2 separate regions of the Homo sapiens genome follow, and region 2 is linked to region 1. Evidence: fine-mapped expression QTL. Tissue or cell type: monocytes. Region 1 holds a variant in brackets; the other region holds the start of a gene. All regions are shown on one strand. Distances are from middle to middle.

Region 1 (8,110 bases):
GAATAAGATGCTGACAACACAGTGAGACCTCAATTTTTAAAAAGCATTAAATGCCTGAATAATGGAAGAGTGGGAGAATGGAGAGATTGCTCTGTAAATGAGGCACTGAATCCTGCCTTAATTGTTTTAGAAAGCATCCTGATTTATTTTCCCCTAAAACACAATATCTCTGGATATCAACTGTACTGTTTTATGATTCTCTTAAGATCCAGGAGTCTCAAAGCAAACAAGAACAGTCCTTAAATATGAAAGAAAAAGACAATGAAACTACCAAAATCGTGAGTGAGATGGAGCAATTCAAACCCAAAGATTCAGCACTACTAAGGATAGAAATAGAAATGCTCGGATTGTCCAAAAGACTTCAAGAAAGTCATGATGAAATGAAATCTGTAGCTAAGGAGAAAGATGACCTACAGAGGCTGCAAGAAGTTCTTCAATCTGAAAGTGACCAGCTCAAAGAAAACATAAAAGAAATTGTAGCTAAAGTAGGTTTCATCTTTCACCATGTTTTTAAAAAATATTTTGTAACCAAATATTATTATAAACCCTAAATATTTGGAAAGGGGAGTTAATTACAACAAAATAGTTATAATGTTTCTATAAATTTATTGGAATTTCCTCTAATAATAAAGCACCTGGAAACTGAAGAGGAACTTAAAGTTGCTCATTGTTGCCTGAAAGAACAAGAGGAAACTATTAATGAGTTAAGAGTGAATCTTTCAGAGAAGGAAACTGAAATATCAACCATTCAAAAGCAGTTAGAAGCAATCAATGATAAATTACAGAACAAGGTAAATTGGGGATGAAGAAACAGTGGGAGGAAATGGGTGGGTTTGGAGTAGCTAACTGAATTATGAAGACTACTATTTGGCATGCTTAATTGTTTTGGGAAGCAACCTTTTCCTCTTAAGTTGTGTATGTGTGTGTGTGTGTTTACATATTTTTATGACTATTAACTTATTTTATAATTATGTTTAAGATCCAAGAGATTTATGAGAAAGAGGAACAATTTAATATAAAACAAATTAGTGAGGTTCAGGAAAAAGTGAATGAACTGAAACAATTCAAGGAGCATCGCAAAGCCAAGGATTCAGCACTACAAAGTATAGAAAGTAAGATGCTCGAGTTGACCAACAGACTTCAAGAAAGTCAAGAAGAAATACAAATTATGATTAAGGAAAAAGAGGAAATGAAAAGAGTACAGGAGGCCCTTCAGATAGAGAGAGACCAACTGAAAGAAAACACTAAAGAAATTGTAGCTAAAGTAAGTTCCCATCTTATTTTTTTTTTTTTTGGATACAGAAATAGTGTTAAGGTGATAATGACGGTGTTCATGTTAAGTTTTATTAATTTTCCTCTAATCATAAAGGGACCGGAAATAAAAGAGGAATCAAAAACTGCTTATATTCAACTGAGTACCAGTAAACTGTTAGTAGACAGAATATTTCAGAGAAGACAGCTCAAGTAGCAAATATTCATTGGGATTTAGGAAATTCTGATGGTGAATTACAGGAAAAAGTGGGACTTGTTAAATTGGAAAATGACATCTAATTATTGTTACTCATATCCCTTATGAAAGAAAGTACTACATACATTAGATTACAATGTAAAAATGATTGCCTTATTTTAGGAACAGTTCTTCCTTTTCCTAAAAAAATTCTGCCTATGTTGTAACTTACTTTATAATTTTCTCAGATGAAAGAATCTCAAGAAAAAGAATATCAGTTTCTTAAGATGACAGCTGTCAATGAGACTCAGGAGAAAATGTGTGAAATAGAACACTTGAAGGAGCAATTTGAGACCCAGAAGTTAAACCTGGAAAACATAGAAACGGAGAATATAAGGTTGACTCAGATACTACATGAAAACCTTGAAGAAATGAGATCTGTAACAAAAGAAAGAGATGACCTTAGGAGTGTGGAGGAGACTCTCAAAGTAGAGAGAGACCAGCTCAAGGAAAACCTTAGAGAAACTATAACTAGAGTGAGTTACCATCTCTCTACACCTCTAGTAACTATGACATTGAGTCCTAAGAGAAAAATCTGCCATAGGGTTGGTGGGAGTATAAAATTGGTCCAGGCCGGGCGCGGTGGCTCGAGCCGGTAATCCCAGCACTTTGGGAGGCCAGGGCGGGCAGATCACGAGGTCAGGAGATCAAGACCATCCTGGCTAACATGGTGAAACGCCATCTCTACTAAAAACATAAAAAATTAGGCAGGCGTGGTGGTGGGCGCCTGTAGTCCCAGCTACTTGGGAGGCTGAGACAGGAGAATGGCGTGAACCCAGGAGGCGGAGGTTGCAGTGAGCCAAGATCGCACCACTGCACTCCAGCCTGGGCGACAGAGCAAGACTCCATCTCAAAAAGTAAAATAAAATAAAAAATAATAAAATAAGATAAAATTGGTCCAATATTGAGGAAAGTTGGTGAGGGTATATTTGGAAATACCTTCCAAATTTTTCCAAAGGTTTATTCGTTGATCCACAAGTCCAGTTGTAACTATCCTCCACACATTTGCACAACTGTATAAAGATATTTGTAGGATATTCTTTGCAACAAGTTGCAATAATGAAATAACACAAACAAAAACAGGGAAAATTCTAACCATCCATTGGTAAGGGACTGGTTAAATAAGTGCAGCACATTCACGTCATGGAATTCTATGCCACAAATAAAAAATGTGGTAGAGCTATAGTGCTGATTTGAAGGGTGAAGTGTCCTGTTAGGGAACAGGGTAAGTTCAGGAATAGTGTATCTAGAATGTATTGACATCTAAAAGTAGCTTAGAGGGTGAGAACTAGGAGGCCTCAGAAGAGGGTGGAAGATTTTTACCTCCTGCCCTATACCTTTCTATAGCATGTGGATGGTACTACTCTCAATGTATTATTTTTATTTTTCTATTGATAAAGGACCTAGAAAAACAAGAGGAGCTAAAAATTGTTCACATGCATCTGAAGGAGCACCAAGAAACTATTGATAAACTAAGAGGGATTGTTTCAGAGAAAACAAATGAAATATCAAATATGCAAAAGGACTTAGAACACTCAAATGATGCCTTAAAAGCACAGGTATTTTATTTTTAAGTTATCTCAGTTACTGAGAGTTTGAATCAAACTTTTTGTGTAATGAAACAAGATATGAATTACCCTAAAATTGAAGGCAAGTGAAGACTTACTTGCCTACTCAATTTAGAAACTATCATTGATCTTTTTATATCTACTGATAATCCTAACTTATTGTATGATTATCTCAAGATCCAAGAACTTCAGGAGAAAGAACATCAACTTCTTTTTTTTTTTTTTTTTTTTTTTT[G/TG]AGACAGAGTCTCGCTCTGTCGCCTGGAGTGCAACGGCATGATCTCGGCTCACTGCAATGTCTGCCTCCCGGGTTCAAGCGATTCTCCTGCCTCAAGTCTCCCAAGTAACTAGGATTACAGATGCATGTCATCACACCCAGCTAATTTTTGTATTTTTAGTAGAGAGGAGGTTTCACCGTGTTGACCAGGGTGGTCTCGATCTCCTGACCTCATGATCCACCCGCCTCGGCCTCCCAAAGTGCTGGGATTACAGGCATGAGCCGCCAGGCCCAGCCTCAACTTCTTAAAGTAAAAAATGATCTTAGGGAAACTATGTATCAAACAGGTCAGTTAAAGAAGCAGTTAGAGGCCTGGAATGTAACTCTGGAAAGTGTAGAAACGCAGAAATTAAGATTGACTCAGAAGCTTCATGAAAACCTTCAGGATGTAAGATTTGTTACTAAGGAAAATGATGGCCTAAGAGGAGTAGAGGAAATCTTTAAAATGGAGCAAGACCAACTTAGGGAAGGCCTTAGAGAAATAGAAGCTAAAGTAAGCTCATTCCTCTCCCTGGCAATTCAATGTATTGTGTTCTTACAGCAATGAACCCTTCTTTGAACCAAGTACTACTGTTGGCAAGAATGAAATGATACAGCCTTTTAAGCAGATAATTTGGTACTGTTCTTGAAAAGTTCAAGTCTGCAATTATCATTTTCCTTACGGACTTTAGCCTACATATATACTGTTAAAGGAGTGTGTGTGTATATACAAACACAACGTATACATATGCCACAGGTTATTTATTGTAGTGATTTTAATTAAAAATCTGAAACAATCTAAATGTTCCTCAGAAGGAAACAGTAAATATGAACAATATATCGAAATACTATGCAACACTTAAAAAAAGTAATATATGTGTAATGTGTTTGCCTCTGGAAAGCAGAAGTAGAGTGTGAAGAGAGGAGGACAGGGAAGAGAAAGCCTGTACCTTAAAAACAACAGCAAAGATATAGAGTAACAGTGTTATTATTTTTACTAAGAAAATATATCACTTTATTTTTTAAAAACTAATATTAAGATATGTCACTGTTTTTAAAATTTCTCTAATGGTAAAGGATCTGAAAATACAAGAGGAACTAAGAATTGCTCACATGCATCTGAAAGAGCAGCAGGAAACTATTGACAAACTCAGAGGAATTGTTTCTGAGAAGACAGATAAACTATCAAATATGCAAAAAGATTTAGAAAATTCAAATGCTAAATTACAAGAAAAGGTATTTTTATGGGGGGATTGTTTGATTGGATATCTAATTTGTTTGTGCCTAAAATTGTTGGGGATATAAAATGGTTCAACCACACTGGAAAACACCTTGGCAGTATTTACTAATGCTGGATGTAGCCTGCCTGAGGCCCAACATTTCCACTTCTTGGGTATGTACATAAGAGAAAAGAGTACGTACATACTTCTATAAAAAGACACAAGAATGTTTATAGCAGCCTTATTCAAAATAACAAAAAACTGAAAACTCAAATGTCTATCAGCAGGAAAATGGATACATACATTGTGATATATAGGTTCAAAAGCAGGCAAAACTGAACCAGGATGATAAAGGTCAGAATAGTGGCTGTCTCTAGGAAGGAGCACACAGAAACTTTATGAAGTGCTAGAAATATTCTCTGTTTTAATCTGGGTTGTAGTTTCATAGATTTACACCTGTGTCAAGAATAATTAAGTTATACATTGAAGATGAGCATGCTTTATATATATTATACCTCAAAAGAAAGTAAAATTCTGTGTGGAATTGTGCAGGATATCAGTGAGAGTAACATGGGTAGACAGTTGTCTTAATCAATTTAGAAACTATTATTTATCTGTCCCTAAAAAGCCACCTAACATATTATTTTATGATTATCTTAAGATTCAAGAACTTAAGGCAAATGAACATCAACTTATTACGTTAAAAAAAGATGTCAATGAGACACAGAAAAAAGTGTCTGAAATGGAGCAACTAAAGAAACAAATAAAAGACCAAAGCTTAACTCTGAGTAAATTAGAAATAGAGAATTTAAATTTGGCTCAGAAACTTCATGAAAACCTTGAAGAAATGAAATCTGTAATGAAAGAAAGAGATAATCTAAGAAGAGTAGAGGAGACACTCAAACTGGAGAGAGACCAACTCAAGGAAAGCCTGCAAGAAACCAAAGCTAGAGTGAGTTGTGTTCTCTCTTTACCCTACCATTATATTCACATATTTGGGCAAAAATACAGTGTTCACTGCAGCGTTGTGTCTGGTGACTAAAACCTAGAAATAATCTAAGTGTCCACCAATAATAAGGCACTATCTGTATAATGGAAAACTAAGCATAAGAATGGGGTATTCTTTTTGTGATATTGATTTAGAAAGATGTCCAAGTGGTATGAAAGGAGAAGGCTATGGGTGAGGCTACCAGCAGAAAATTTTACTTTACTCTTCTAATTTAGGAGGTTGTATAATGGTTGTTTTTAACTGTGAGTGTATAATTTTTAAGATTTTGTTTAAACTCAATCATTAAGTAAAGGTAACGTGCCTTTATATCATTACATTTCTTGATTTCTTCTAACCATAAAGGATCTGGAAATACAACAGGAACTAAAAACTGCTCGTATGCTATCAAAAGAACACAAAGAAACTGTTGATAAACTTAGAGAAAAAATTTCAGAAAAGACAATTCAAATTTCAGACATTCAAAAGGATTTAGATAAATCAAAAGATGAATTACAGAAAAAGGTATGTGTTGTTTTGTTCTTCTTTTGGAAGTAACTGTGCCCAAAATTATTTGTGGAATTAAAAAGATATAGATACAGATATGTAGATAGATATGTGCATATAGAACACAAGTAGACACTATTTGCCTTCCTTGAAGAAACTGCTTACATTCTAACTTGTTTTACAATTATCTCAAGATCCAAGAACTTCAGAAAAAAGAACTTCAACTGCTTAGAGTGAAAGAAGATGTCAATATGAGTCATAAAAAAATTAATGAAATGGAACAGTTGAAGAAGCAATTTGAGGCCCAAAACTTATCTATGCAAAGTGTGAGAATGGATAACTTCCAGTTGACTAAGAAACTTCATGAAAGCCTTGAAGAAATAAGAATTGTAGCTAAAGAAAGAGATGAGCTAAGGAGGATAAAAGAATCTCTCAAAATGGAAAGGGACCAATTCATAGCAACCTTAAGGGAAATGATAGCTAGAGTGAGTTCAGAGTCTTCCTTTGTGTAGTAACTATTAATAAGAATTAAGCTTTTTTGAAAAGAATTACAATGTTTTTATTTCTTTCTCTGGAAATTCCTATGAACAGTAAAGGACAGTGGGAAATGGTTACTCTAATTTTTACACAATAGAAAACAGTTTTAAAAGAAGCAAAAATATTTTCAGAAAATAACATTTAATTCTTTATTTTTATAAACTGTGTTAAAGCAGTCTATTTCCCTTAATATAACATTTTAAAGTTTTTTTTAATCAAGAGATAGCATTATTCTAAATGGAGAAATATTTGAAGGATTAGATTTGTAAGAGAGCAAATATTCCCATTTCTCTACCTATACATGCTGGAGTTCTAGAGTTGGGCTCTTATTGGTGAAGTTAAAAGGAAAAAAGGGAAGATAAATATAAAAATTAAGTTCCTCTGGTATGACTATTTATAGATATTCAGAATCATATATCTTAAAATATCTAATTAAATCCTCTTTTTGAAAGTAACAGAGTTCAGACAAGTTTATTAAAATCTGTAAAAATCTTTTTTATTCTCATATTTCTTTATGTGGGCCTGAACTAAATTTATAGAGAGATTTAATTCATTCATCAAATATTCTTCTAGGTACTGTAGTGAACAAGATAAGTGGGAGAAAATGTTTTTGTTTCACTTTATACTTTTTAATCAGAAATGCAAAATGTACACAGGATATGAACTTTTCCAAGGTGCTGGGAAGAATATATGACTAGGGTTTGAAACACCATAGACAGTACAGGTGGTTTTGCCAGTATATTTGGTTGGCGCCAATAAAGTGCATTAGGATAAAAGCAAGTGCCACTGTTAAAACTACAAGTGAATAATGCAGAGATTTGGAAGAGTAGGAATCAGAAATTAAAATCTAATTTATTTGTTTTCCTGGTTGTTTATTTATTTATTTATTTATTTTTATAGAGACAGGGTCTCACTATGTTGCTGAGGCTGGTTTTGAGCTCCTGAGCTCAAGTGATCCTCCTGCCTCGATCTCCTAAAGTGCTAGGATTACAGGCGTGAGCTACCATGCCTGGCCCTAAAACCTAATTTGTAGCTATGAAAAACAAATCCTGTCTCCAAAAATTAGATGATTTTTCTACTTTTTTACCAATGAGTTAAGGTCACTCCCTATAAAACTTACTGATACTATTATTCATTTTCTGATCATTTTAACATTGCTTTTGAGTGACAAGTATAATATTTAATTCCATTATTGAAATGTCATGTAATTTAGAAGTGTGCGATTAGACATTATATGTGAATATAGTCATGACAAAAGCCCTGTTTATTTTCTTTTTACCAAAGCAGGACCGACAGAACCACCAAGTAAAACCTGAAAAAAGGTTACTAAGTGATGGACAACAGCACCTTACGGAAAGCCTGAGAGAAAAGTGCTCTAGAATAAAAGTAAGTACCCCCTGTTAAAACTACAAATGATTATTGGTTGTCTTCCAAAGGCTTACCGAAACCTGAAGTGGGATTGAAGGAACCTCTGGAATAAATAGATAGTGCTCAGTATTTTTCTAAACATTGTAATCTAGTACAGGTGTGTGG
Region 2 (8,110 bases), 640 kb after region 1:
GCAAAGCAAAATAATGTAATTTTTGTTCCTTATAGAAGATGGCTGTCCATTTAAAAAAAAATTTTGCAACAACTTCATATCATTCATTCATTTAACAGTTAATGATTGCTTACTATGTACCAACAAGTACAATGCTAAGCATCAGATATTTCTTTCGTCAGTATTGATTAGATATTATTTATTTTTAGTTAAACTAGAGTATTTGATTCTCTCAAACAGCTTTTTCTTTATTTCATTTTTTATAATTTTGGCTATTTTAAAGAATAAATTCTTTTCTAAAGCTTAAGCAGTCAAAATTTGTCACAGTTTAAACTAATAGGATCCATAGATGAACTCAAGTCTGTTGATATCTACTGAAGGCATGGGTCAAAATAAAAGCTATTTTAAGGTTTCTGGATTAATGGTGAAAGATGAATGAAAAATAATAAGGCAATTTGTAATGGATAATTAAACCAAATATATCATTATTCTAATTTCAAAAACAGGCAATAAATTAAAGCAGATGAAATTTGTATTACTGATAATTAATTCTGTTTGTTACTACAGAAAATATGACACAATAAAAATTGTTTTCTTTTTAAAATGTAAAATGCACTATTTTTATTATTAGTACTCTAAATTAAACAAATATTTTCATCCATAATCTATCTTCTGAGATTTCTATAATCTTTAACAAATCACATCTTATGTGACTCTTATTCTGTACAGAACTGTCAGGCTTTAAATTATTTGAGGTGTAGCAATGCAATTTGCACAACTTATTTTCTAAACTGTTGGCTGATCTTCAAGGCCAGGTCAACAACCTCCGGAAATGTAAAAGACAGTATATTAATTTGCACCCAGGAACAACCCCTAATACAGCAGAGACCAAAGGTATGAAGCAATTTCATCATCATTAAAAGAATGTTACTACTTTTTTCTCTTTTTTTCTTCTAAAAGTGAGGCACTGGATACTAATTAATGAAATACTACAAAGATAAAAGGCTTGGTTATGTTACCAGAACTATTAACTGTCCAAATTATGTGGTTTCAAATATTAATCTTTTTTGATTAAAAAAATTCACAGTCAAGGAGCCAAACTGACTTGCAGGACTATGCCAAAACGTTCAAACCTTTCTCCCTGAGGCTGAGTACCTTCAGTTCTTCCAAACTGTCTGTCTCCAAAGTAGTGACAAAATTCAAAGAGAGATCATATGCTCTTGATGGTTTATTGCTGACCTCTAAGAACACTACAAGTGAGTTCAGTATTTATGGGAGGTGCAAGAGTGCAAATGAGAACTAATTCCCAAAAAGCAGAGTAAATTGCTCCAGTATGGTCTACTGTTTACCAAGACGTAGTCATCAATTAATGCTGATTAGACACAAATGTAGATGTAGGAGCAGAACATCTTAACATATCCTCTAGCACTAACTTCTATTTTTCCTTCTCCTTCTCTTCTAATATAACAATCCCACTACTGTAGACAATTCACCTTGTAAACAGAAAACCAACAGACCAACCGAATAAAACAAACTTCCTACTAAAAGTAAGAAAATTAATGAGAAATTTTGCATAGACATCCATTCCTGTTAATGTGATTTCTGATCAATCTGTGGACCAGAAGAGCATAATCTGAGAATTTACTCTATTGGTTATACAACAGTACTGTGCATTTCCAGATACACTTCCTACTGCAGTCAATTCTATACTCAGAATAGCACATCTACTAAGACCCGAAGATGCAAAAGATGACATTTTGAGTACTTCATCAAAAATCCATACAGCAACTCAGATACAATTATTTTACTGTTTGAAAATATCGACTACTTTTCTTACTTCTCCCAAGTTCAAACCAATTGAAGGTTATGAAGTAACCACTTCCCCCCAGAAGCCAGAACTTTCACCTCTTCTGAACAGAGAAATACCTCTCATAAATTAGGTAAAAATAAGGTCTTGCTGATGGAATGATAGTCCAACATTCATGTAGCTGCCAATTCCCTATCTAGACCTCGTATCTACCACAATGAGCAATCCCTGAAAGTCAAGGTAGTAACTTACTTAATCAATTATCTGCAAGTCTAAAAGTGTAGTTAAAACAACCTGCATAAATATTAGTTTCTCAAACTACTTCAATTTGTTTCCAGGAACAGTAACAACAGAAATGTAAGGAATATAATCACTAAATCTAAAATTCTGCCTATTTCAGATTAATTGTGCTTTAATCAACTCAATCAACACAGATCTTGTTTAAGAGGTAGAGTAAAAAGGAAGTGCAAAGATCAAAGCAATGCTTACAAAGGGGAAGGACTATTTTTGTATGTATACCCCCAGTATTTACTATCTGGGTTTGAAAAACACGGGCATTTACTCAGCACAAGTGAGTGCCAATGCCTAACATAAGAATGAAATTTCAGCAAAAAGATAATAGATTTTCACATCACCACCAACCCCTAAAAGGATTATACTACCTTCTTTAAAAAGTCTCAAAGAGTTTAGAAGTGGTTTGCTTTTCACTGCAAGCAGCTTTTCGGTTCCAGTATTAAATGTACATATAACGTGTGTTCCTTTGTGTTCAAGTTTGTCCAGTAGGCTGCAGCCCAGGAAGACATTTTATCTAAACAAGCAGGGGAGGGCATTTAGGAATTGCAGGTGTATCAATATGGATGAATAATCTCAGATTCCAAGTCTCCATTAATCGTACATGTTCTTTCCATTTTAGCAATTCAATTAAATCATGAATGTAAAATTCTACAGGAAACAAATCTTTTTATTTCCTGTCTTCCCAAGTTTATAAACTCAAAAAAGTACATTGCTTCAAATTTAAATACATACATTTAAATACATAATTCCTATAGTGCCTCAAACAGTAAAAGGATTCATCTCTAGAAAGCACAATATTAAAATCAGAAAAACAACATACTTTAGTTTTAAGTTTCCCTTTTAAAGTTTTAACAAACACGAATGCAGTTTAAACTGCTTGACAATATTCAGTTGTGGGATTCTGCTAGAAAAAAATTATTGAATATCTTGACCCTAACCTTTACTATTTACTAAAAGATCACCAGTATGTAGAATATTTTGATGCCAGAGCTATTAAATGTTTTAGTAATACCATAAGCATTTTTTCAGATTATGAGCTTTATAAAAAAATCTTTGAGTTAAATATGGTTATTTCATAAACTGTAATGCTGAAAACCTCTACTTAACAAAGTCCATGAACATGTCAATCTTGATAATTAAATCCTGTATCATTAAGTCCCATTTGAGTTTCAGGATAAACCAGCAAGTCAGGGCAAACATTCCCTGGTGTCTGTTTTTAAGGACCATAGAAAAACTTGCATTTAGGATAGGCCTTGTTTTTACATTATTTTTGTTTCAGCGGTCATGCATAATGCATGGTGGCACTGTCCAAGAGTTTTACATAATCAAGTCTAAAAAGTGCTCTAAGTATCCAGGTAGGTAATTTATTTTCTCTCTCAAATGCCAGGCCCCGGAGGATCAGAATCAAGTCCTATAGCAGGTGACTATATCGTGTGTGTGTGTGTGTGTGTGTGTGTGTGTGTGTGTGCGCGCGCGCGCGCGCACGGAGGGGGGGAGGGGGGAGAGAGAGAGAGACAGAGAGCGAGCCAGGTTTCTTTTAGAAGTAGGAGAGGGATGAATAGACTCTCCTATTCAATTCTGGGGAGCTGGGGAGGGCTTTCCCAGCCAAGAGGACTGACAAGCACTTCTGCTTTCATTTCATGGAACGCCCTTAGGTGAAATCTGGTTCTGCACTGCACCAACCACCTTCCCTCTCTCCTCCGCGCCGCAGCGCACTCCAACCTTCTCACCATCCCCCAGGTGGGGCTGGGGTTGGGGATTTTAAAAGTTTGTAAGAGTTCCCCTCCGGTTCGCGTTCCCGCCCCGCGGAGGGACGTGAAGAGAAATGACCGCCGGGCGGCCGCGGCCCTTCGGCCGACTAGCCCCTGCGAGGTCCGGATGTGTCTTTCCCCGCTGTCGCTAATCCCATGTGCCTCTCAGCTACTGTCAACCTCCTCCCACGGTCTAGCCCAGCGGTTAGCGCAGGAATGAGGAAGTCCGAGTGGGGCTGGAGGGGGTGCGGAGGGCTGGGCGGCAGGACTTGGGCCACGCGTCCCCTGCCGGGCCCCCACTCGCCCGAGTTTGGCTTACCCGGGTGGCGAGTCCGCGTTCGGCCTCCTGGCGCGGGTGGGCTCTCCCTCCTAAGCGGCGCGGGCCTGCCGGCTGGAGAAGGAAGAGGCGGCGGCAGGCCGGAGCCCGGGCGGGCCCGAGTGCGGGTCGGGGCGAGCGGGAGCGCGGCGGGGCCGGGCCAGGCCAGTCAGCGCCGCGCCATGGCCGCAGCGCGGGCGGAGGGAAGCGCAGGGCGCGCGGTGGCCGGGCGGCGGCGCCGCCTTACTGGCCGGGCGGCTGCGGCCTCGGCGGCGCTGGGCTCCGGGAGCGGGGCCGGTGGCTGCGTGCAGGCCGAGGGCTGCGGCGGCTGGCGGCCCGACCGACGGGAAGGGCAGGGGAAGCTGTCAGCGCGTCGCCGGGCCGCTCCGGTGGCGAAACCTCCTCTTCCTGCCCCGGCTCGCTGGTGCACTTCTCTCTCTTTCTGTCTCGCTCACTCTCTCACTTCCTGGCTGGAAATTCCCACTGACGTCGAGAGAGCATACAGACAGACGGACACACGCGCGCACGCAGCGGGGGCGGGAGGTAGGGTCGCTGCCGGGGGTGGGGGAAGCCCGCACTTCTAGGGGCGCTGTGCGCCCCCGGCCCGGCCTTGCCGCTCGCCTCGGCTCCCGCCCCTCGGGGCCGCTTCGGGGCGCCGGGCGAGGGGCGCGCGTTAGGCGGCCTGGACGCCGCGGCCCCTGCGGGGCTCTGGCTTCCTAGCAGGGCGCTCCCGAATCCCAAGGGCTGGAGCCGGTAGGGAAGCCCCCAGGAAGCGCCTGCCGGGCCCAATCAATGGTCGGGGAACGCAGGCAGCACGGAGGCGGCGGCGGTGGCAGTGCCGCTGATAGAGTCATGCGGTCCATAGCCCCTAAGGGCAGGCCCGAGCAGCTGGAGGGTCGGCATGGATCCAAGCATGCCAGATATAAAAATAAAGCTCATCTGTATATTCCATTTAAGCGTGTCTCAGTTACATTCACATCTCTTCACAGATTAAACTACAATTTCGTTATCATAAACGACTTGTGCCCAGTAAAGTATAACCCTCTACTGGTTTTTGGTGCGGTCTTAAATCTCCTGGTTATAGAGCAGTTACTCAGAATGTTCATCTACAAGGCATTGTTAGGCCTTTATGATAATTACTGTGGATAGAATTATAGTGATGGTGGTAGCAATGGTTTTGGTTCACAGCTCATAAAATACTGATCTGGCAGAGGGGAGTTTTCTTTTTCTCTGAAGAGACCGCTACTGGCACCCACTGACAGGCCTCCCAGTGGCCACCATTCACTGGCATCTGAGCTGCTTTAGTGCTGGGCACTGTATTAGGTACAGGCTGGGGATACCTTCGGGTGGATTACCTCCCCACATAAGAAAGCTTGAGCCGAAATATATATTTTAGAGCTCATTGTTTCACTACTGGGTGGAGTGACAACTGAAAGCTTAGCTTTAAAACATCAGTAATCAGGTCCTCACCAGGCAATATTGCAGTGGCATTTAGATTGCTTATGGCATGTTCATCCTAGTCCTTTCGTGCCCACTCTCCATCCTCCTCCTCCAGTAGGTTATAAAAACCTTCTTGGTGGAGTGTTTTTCTGGAAAAAAAAAATAAACAAAAAAAACCCACACACACAAAAACCCAGCGATCCATTTGATTGCCTATGAGGTGAGTCTCCGAGGCGACCTTGGAGGCCCCAACAGTCGACCTTTAAGTGATCTCATTTAGCTCCGGGAGGCTGAGCAGCTGGAATTTAGAGGATCCATAAAGACTGAACACAATGACTTTTTAAGAAATTCTGTGAGCCGGGTGCGGTGGCTCACACCTGTAATCCCAGCACTTTGGGAGGCCAAGGCGGGTGGATCCCCTGAGGTCAGGAGTTTGAGACCAGCCTGACCAATATGGTGAAACCCCATCTCTACTAACAATACAAAAAAATTAGCCGGGCGTGGTGGCGGGCGCCTGTAATCCCAGCTACTCCAGAGGCTGAGGCAGGAGAATCGCTTGAACCCTGGAGGCAGAGGTTGCAGTGAGCCAAGATTGCGCCACTGCACTCCAGCCTGGGCGAGACAGAGCGATACTCTGAGAAAGAAAGAAAGAGAGAGGGAGGGAGAGAGGGAGGGAGGGAGGGAGGTGTGAGCATACACACTCTACTTTTCATTCTGCAAGGGGTGGCAGCCCCATTACCAAAAGATAGATAAATACAATTGTTATAAGAGTAGAGCCAGTGTGACATATTTGGGAGTAAAAAATGAAGAGCGTTAATTACTGAAAAGGATTAAATCAAACTCCAAACTCAAAATGATTCCATAAAATGAACTTAAAATTCAGGGTAGGGTGTTGAGCAGGCATATTTTCCTGGGGCTGCTGTAAAAATTTACCACCGACTGAACAGCTTACAACGGGAATTTATTCTGTCACAGTCCTGGAGCCTAAAATTCTGAACTCAAGGTGCCATTAAGGCCATGATCCCTCTGAAGGCTCTAGGGAAGAATCCTTTGCCTCCTCCTAGCTTCTGGTAGCTCCAGCAATCCTTGCCATTCTTGGCTTGGCTGCAACACTCCATTCTGTGCCTACATTGTCACATGGTCTCCTTCCCCGTGTTTCCTTTGTGTCGCTATATTCAACTCTCCCTCACCTTTCTTTTATGAAGACACCAGTCATTGGATTTAGAGCCCACCCCAATCCAGTATTACCTCATCTTAACTTGATAACATTTGCAAAGATCCTAGTTCCAAATAAACTCATGTTCACAGGTACCTGTGGTTAGGACTTGAACATATGTTTTGGGGGGATGTAATTCCATGCAGCACAGCAGGCAAAACTATAAAAGCTTTTTGGCTTGCTGATTAACCCTCCTCCATTCCTGCTTTGTTACCCAACATTTTCTCTACACTGTACAAACCTGCTTCCAGGAATATCTCTTACAAATTCATCCATCCTAAGGTGTCAGAAGGTATTTGCCATTATCAGGCTACGAAGAGGAAAAAAATGCCTCAATGTGGAATTTCAGACATCAATATTGTCTAAAAGACAAGTTATTTTGTGTTTGTCACTTGTCTTAGTTCATTTGTGTTGCTATGGCAGAATACACAAGACTAGGTAGCTTATAATGAAAAGAGGTTTATTAGGCTCACAGTCTTCAGACTGTACAAGAAGCATGGCACCAGCATATGCGTCTGGTGAGGGCCTCAGGCTGCTTCCACTCAATGGAAGGCAAAGGCGGGTGGTGTGTGCAGAGAGATCGTATGGCGAGAGAGAGGGGAGAGATGCCAAACTTTTTAGCAACCAGCTCTCATAGGAACTAATGCAGTGAGAACTCACTCATCCTCTCCTCCTTGCAGGGAATAGCATCAATCTATTTGTGAGGGATCCACCTCCATGACCGAAACATCTCCCATTAGGCCCCACCTCCAAAATTGGGGTCACATTTCAACATGAGGTTTAGAGGAGACAAATACCCAAACCATAGCATCACTAAATCATTGAAACTACACAAATTTCCCTTCTCATGAAGCTATTTTGGAAATACCAGTGTGGAGAGAATTCTGAGGTTGAGATCTGTGTAGTGTGTTCATTGGCAATGAGAACATAGGAAAAGTATGTCTTCTTTTTAATTGCCTCTGAGTAAAGGTGACACAACACTTCTGCCCACATTCCATGGCCCCACTTAGATGCAAGAGAGCAGGGAACTACAGTTCTTCTGGTTGGTTAGGAGGTTGAAATAGGTCGGCTAAGCATATGGTTAATACCTGCTATACACGTATTCACTTATTTGGTTGTCAGTCATATAAAGTGGATCACCATTATAATCCCCATATTTACAGATGAAAAGTTGAATAATTTTCCTAAGGTTTCATAATTAGTAAATAGAAGGAGAGTCAGGATTTGAACCTAACAGATTTGGCTCCAGTGTGCATGATATTAACCACCACACTAAACTATTATCCAATGATATAAAAAGGAGCATG

Which allele goes with the higher level. Alleles are on the strand shown, and positions count from the first base shown. SD is a standard deviation of normalised expression in the study named.
With allele TG in place of G in region 1, the expression in monocytes of the gene that starts at base 4,580 in region 2 is higher (large effect, 0.77 SD a copy in Quach 2016).

What was found. PIP is the estimated chance that this variant, and not a neighbour inherited with it, causes the effect.
Region 2: NFKB1 starts here. The variant in region 1 is fine-mapped to the expression of NFKB1 in monocytes (Quach 2016, PIP 0.95).

The regions. Positions count from the first base shown.
Region 1 is chr4:103,138,204-103,146,313 of GRCh38, reverse strand. It overlaps CENPE (centromere protein E), which reads left to right. Exons shown (of 49, transcript NM_001813.3): 30 at 207-485; 31 at 633-791; 32 at 980-1,264; 33 at 1,696-1,983; 34 at 2,908-3,066; 35 at 4,406-4,564; 36 at 5,210-5,500; 37 at 5,900-6,058; 38 at 6,235-6,525; 39 at 7,865-7,963. Among named protein-coding and RNA genes, the nearest start is that of BDH2, 42 kb to the right of the region's middle. The variant G/TG (reference allele first, on the strand shown) is at 3,311.
Region 2 is chr4:102,497,829-102,505,938 of GRCh38, reverse strand. NFKB1 (nuclear factor kappa B subunit 1) reads right to left here and starts at 4,580. Exons shown (of 24, transcript NM_003998.4): 1 at 4,151-4,580. NFKB1-AS1 (NFKB1 antisense RNA 1) reads left to right here and starts at 3,453. Exons shown (of 5, transcript NR_136202.1): 1 at 3,453-3,500. RefSeq lists an enhancer at 3,901-3,950 and silencers at 4,061-4,630, 4,641-4,900.